2 separate regions of the Homo sapiens genome follow, and region 1 is linked to region 2. The links come from fine-mapping of genetic effects on gene expression. Tissue or cell type: whole blood. Region 2 holds a variant in brackets; the other region holds the start of a gene. All regions are shown on one strand. Distances are from middle to middle.

Region 1 (2,682 bases), 59 kb after region 2:
AGAATGTAAAGCACTTTAAAAGTCCAAGTTATTATTGCTGTTATCAAGAGAAGGCCCTTTGGGACAGAACTTAAATAGCCTTGGCCGGGCGCGGTGGCTCACGCCTGTAATTCCAGCACTTTGGGAGGCCGAGGCGGGCGGATCACGAGGTCAGCAGATCGAGACCATCCTGGCTAACACGGTGAAACCCCGTCTCTACTAAAAATACAAAAAAAATTAGCCGGGCGTGGTAGCGGGCGCCTGTAGTCCCAGCTACTCGGGAGACTGAGGCAGGAGAATGGCGTGAACCCGGGAGGCGGAGCTTGCAGTGAGCCAAGACAGCGCCACTGCAGTCCAGCCTGGGCGAAAGAGCGAGACTCCGTCTCAAAAAAAAAAAAAAAAAGAACTTAAATAGCCTTTCTTTCATCTAAGGGACACTTTTGAGCATCTACCACATACCAGGCACTGTGCTAGGCACTGTGCACACATGCCCTCACTTACCCCTCACAAAGGGTCAGTGCTGCTGTTCTTTACCTTTTACAGATGAAGAAACTGAGGCTCAGCTGAGAGTTGCAATTCATTCCATCATTAGTTCATTCACTCAGCTTTTACTAAAAGCCTGCTCTGGGCCAGGCTCTGGGCCAAGTGCTGAGAAGAAGAAGATGAACAAGTCCTTCAGGAGACGTGCCCATAAATTAATAACAACTAAGTACATGCTTCAACAGACAAGGTGCAGTGGGAACTAGAGGGGGAGCAACAGGCTCTCCTGGGGGTTATGGGAATGGACAGCTGACCTCCTGCGGGGACCCTGCACCGCTAAGGTGCATGCGCCCTGTGTAGCTGTGCAGTCTCACTTTGATCAAGGCTTTGCTGTGTATTTCCAGGAAGCCTCTTCCGCCACTGAGCCTCGGTCTCTACCTGGAAAGTTAAAAGGTTGCGTAGGCCTGACATCCTGCAGCTCTTGGGGGGCCTAAAACTCTGGCCCTCCCACCCCACCTTCTGGTCAGTTCAAGCTCTACCCCAGCCAAGTCCGATTCCGAAGCCCTGAGGGCCAGACCGAATCCCTCCGAAAGTGCCAAATACCCCGCCCCAGGGCGGTGCTCAGAGCCTGGGGCGTGGCCGGAGTCCCAAGGGGCGGGGTTCCAGTGGGAGGGGCGGGGCCAAGACCTAGATGCAGGCGTGCGCGGCCCGCCCAGAAGCGTCTCGCCCAGCCAATGAGCGTCCGAGGGCGGGGAAGCCCCGCCTCTGGGTATAAGAATACGCCGAGCCCAGCTACGCGACGCGGAGGTTTCGGAGCACTACAGGTTGCGGGCCTTTGTGACCCCAGGCTGCGGCCGCAAGGTGCGCAGTAGTGGGCTGGGCCGGGGCACCAGTCGGGTTTGGTTTTGCTCCGCCCGGCCGAGCTGCAGGGACCGCACGGTGCCCGGGTCTCCCGCCGCAGAGCAGCCGCTGGCCCGGGCCGGGGGAGCCGGCGCTGACCACCGCGCGCTGTCCCCGCAGGCAGCCGGCCTGCCGCCATGGCCGACCACCTGATGCTCGCCGAGGGCTACCGCCTGGTGCAGAGGCCGCCGTCCGCCGCGGCCGCCCATGGCCCTCATGCGCTCCGGACTCTGCCGCCGTACGCGGGCCCGGGCCTGGACAGTGGGCTGAGGCCGCGGGGGGCTCCGCTGGGGCCGCCGCCGCCCCGCCAACCCGGGGCCCTGGCGTACGGGGCCTTCGGGCCGCCGTCCTCCTTCCAGCCCTTTCCGGCCGTGCCTCCGCCGGCCGCGGGCATCGCGCACCTGCAGCCTGTGGCGACGCCGTACCCCGGCCGCGCGGCCGCGCCCCCCAACGCTCCGGGAGGCCCCCCGGGCCCGCAGCCGGCGCCAAGCGCCGCAGCCCCGCCGCCGCCCGCGCACGCCCTGGGCGGCATGGACGCCGAACTCATCGACGAGGAGGCGCTGACGTCGCTGGAGCTGGAGCTCGGGCTGCACCGCGTGCGCGAGCTGCCCGAGCTCTTCCTGGGCCAGAGCGAGTTCGACTGCTTCTCGGACTTGGGGTCCGCGCCGCCCGCCGGCTCCGTGAGCTGCTGAGGGCGGCCGGCGCCCGCCCGGCGTGCCGGAGAGGAGAAAGGGCCCGACTGCCCGCCGGACCCTGCACCCAGCGACTGGGCCCCGCGCGCGCCCTCCGCGAGGGTGGAGGCGGCGGCTGTGTGCGCAGGGCCCGGCACCGGACTGGGACCCTGGCGTCCCTCCAGGCCTTGCCTCCTGCGGGAGGACAGTTTGGCTTCACTTCTCTGACCCCAGCCTCGGCCGTAAAGTGAAAGAGACCGGACCAGCTTCAGCTTTCGGACTCTGGTTCTTGGATCGTGTCCTCTCCCCCTCGCCGCCCTCTTCCCCCAATCTGAGCCATTGCAGGCCTCTGCCTGCTGCCCCCTCTCTCCTCGGGATCGGGTCCCCAGAGCCACCATCTCCTGAGCCTCCCACCCCGCTGCCTGGGCCCTGTGGTTGCTGGGCCTCCCACCTCAAGGAGGGGAAGGTTGTACAGCCCGAACCCGTGGAGCAATGCCCTGTCTGGCCTCCAAAACCAAAATAAAACTGGGTCACTTTACAGTCTTGCCGTTTTCATTTCCTTATCACCCCGAGCCCTGACTATATTTAGCTTCCAAAGTCCCAAGGTTGCTGAAGACACTGGATGGCATGGGGGCCACAGTCCCCAGCAGTG
Region 2 (2,682 bases):
TTTCCTCCTGCAAGGTGACCTAGTTAGCAGGTTCCTCTTGTCATGTGAGGTTGGCTGAGCAAGACATTTACCTACCTCTGTCTACCCAGAAAAGCCTGATCCGACACTTTCCTCTCCTCCTTCCCCCGATGCTGTTCCTGATTCTCCCACGGTTCACTCATTCTAGAAGTCCAGGGAATGGATGATAATGCACTAAGCGTGGTGCTTCAGGGCCTCAAAGCATGTTCACAGACATTATCATACTTCCTTCTTACACCAGGCTTGGAGGGCGAATCTATTATCAACCCATTTCACAGCTGAGGAAATAAAGGTGCAGAGAGGGTAGGCAACATGAGCAAGGACACACGGCTGGGAGGAGGCAAAGCCAGGATCTGGACCCAGGTTCCTGAAACTCAGACCAGTGTCCCTGCAGTGCTTTGAGTTTCCCTGGTTTTATGCACCTCTCTGAGGAGCCCCAGTCACTAAGCCTTCCTCACCTATCCACTGCCTGTGTTGGACCTCCTGAACACCTATCTGGTTGTAGAACTGGGTGCAGAGGTTGAGATCAAGGACTTGGAGGTCCACCAGCCTCAGGGTGGAGCTGGGATTTGAGTTTCAGCATTTATCAGCTCTGTGGCCTCAGGCAAGTTGCTTTGCCTGCCTGAGACTCAGTTTCTATATCTGTAAAATGGGCATAATAATCATACCTGCATCCTAGGGTTTCTATAAGGATTAAATAAGATAGGGTACATAAAGTGCCCAGCAGCTTCCTTTCATTTTGCATATTTTTGATAAAATAGCTATTGTTGTCCAGGCACAGCGGTACATGCAAGTAATCCCAGCACTCTGGGAGGCCCAAGCAGGCAGAGGGTTTGAGCCCAGGAGTTTGAGATCAGCCTGGGCAACATGGCGAAACCCCATCTCAGCAAAAAATACAAAAATTAGCTGGGTGTGGTGGTGCACACCTGTAGTGCCAGCTACTCGGGAGGCTAAGTTGGGAGGATCACTTGAGCCTGGGAGATTGAGGCTGCAGTGAGCAGAGATCACTTCACAGCAATCCAGCCTGGGTGACAGAGTGAGTTCTGTCTCAAAACAAACAAACAAACAACAACAACAAAAAAACTATTGTTGTTATTATTATTGACATCCTGAATTTAACCCAAAAAGGAGAAGCTTAA[G/C]ATGGGCTAGTGCCAATGAAGAGTTGCTGTAGTAAAGGTTGTTATGACTATTCCCATGCCATCATGCACAGGCCTGGAAGAAAGAGTCATATTGACAATAACACAACTCCAGCATATGGCAGTTTCTTCTGAAGTGTTGGCCCCTTGTTCCACTGGATGGCTGCTGGCTCCCTGTAGGAACCCACTGCAGGAGAGGAGAGAGGTGTGGGCAGCCTTGGCTGTCACCCTAGGGGTGCTTATTCACTCTGCAAGTGTCACATCCCACTGGCAGGGGGCATAGAGAAGTGCAGGGTGCCTACTCCGGTGATCCCTGGGTGCTGTGGGTCGTGCAGAAGTGAAGATGCGGAAGGAGATTAGGGGCAGGTCTGGGGACCCCTGAAGACCATGATCAAATTATGTAAAGGCAGAAGTGGCTGAGGGCTAGTGAGAACGAAGCTGGACTTGGGGGATCAGATGCTGCATTCAAATCCTTCCTCCACCACTCCTTATATGTGAGCCCACAGATAAGTTGCTTAACTGCTCCAAGCCTCAGTTTACCCATCTGTAAAAACTGGGCATAATTTGAACCTCATGGGAAGGTGGCGAGGCTTGGATGAGTTACCTACGTGTTGCACCAGCACAGTGATAGGCATGACATGGGGGCAGAGTACATGTTTGAGAATTTGAATTTGAAGTCTAGCCAAGCCCCAAGACCCAAGGTACCATCTTAGGAATTTGGAAGAAGAGATGAATGTGGTCTGGAGTAAACAAAGAAGGCTCCAGAATGATAGCATGACTGGCCTTGGGTCCTGAAATCTAAGTATAACAAGGATGCTGGAGAAGCTTGGGGAGGCCATTCAGACAAGAGGTCCAGTGGGAGGAATGGGCATGGCACACAGACAGGACAGTCGCTTTCCGTCACACCCCATGGAAGGTTTTTTTTTTTTTTTTTTTTTTTAGAAAGAGTCTCATTCTGTCACCCAGGCTGGAGTGCAGTGGCACAATCTTGGCTCACTGCAGCCTCAACCTCCCAAGCTCAAGGGATTCTCTCACCTCAGCTTCCCAAATAGGTGGGACTACAAGCATGCGCCACCACGCCTGGCTAATTTATACATATAAATACACATTATGTATATACATGTGTGTATATATGTGTGTATATATGTGTGTGTGTGTGTGTGTATACATATACACGCACAAAACTGTAGAGACCAGGTTTCACCATGTTGCCCAGGCTGGCCTCAAACTCCTGGGCTCAAGCAATCCACCCACCTCAGCCTCCCAAAGTGTTGGACCATGCCTGTCTCTCAGAAAATTCAAACTCTTCACCATGGCCTTTCCTCTGTGACCTCTATTCCCAGCCCTTCTGGTCACCGCACTCACTCTACCTCAGTGGCCTGGTCACTGTGCTCACTCTACCTCAATGGCCTCCTCGCGGTTCCCACACACATCCTCTTCATCACGCCCTATTCTTTTGACTTGTGTACAGAGCACTTAACATACTCTGGTACTATACAATTTGTCATTTGTGTACATGTTTATTGCC

What was found. PIP is the estimated chance that this variant, and not a neighbour inherited with it, causes the effect.
Region 1: CITED4 starts here. The variant in region 2 is fine-mapped to the expression of CITED4 in whole blood (TOPMed, PIP above 0.99).

The regions. Positions count from the first base shown.
Region 1 is chr1:40,860,942-40,863,623 of GRCh38, reverse strand. CITED4 (Cbp/p300 interacting transactivator with Glu/Asp rich carboxy-terminal domain 4) reads left to right here and starts at 1,261. Exons shown (of 1, transcript NM_133467.3): 1 at 1,261-2,570. The coding sequence starts at 1,497. The coding sequence ends at 2,051. LOC124904157 (a long non-coding RNA gene) reads right to left here and starts at 1,240. Exons shown (of 3, transcript XR_007066025.1): 1 at 514-1,240. RefSeq lists an enhancer at 875-934 and silencers at 1,035-1,234, 1,395-1,474.
Region 2 is chr1:40,920,433-40,923,114 of GRCh38, reverse strand. No RefSeq gene overlaps it. Among named protein-coding and RNA genes, the nearest start is that of CTPS1, 58 kb to the left of the region's middle. The variant G/C (reference allele first, on the strand shown) is at 1,158.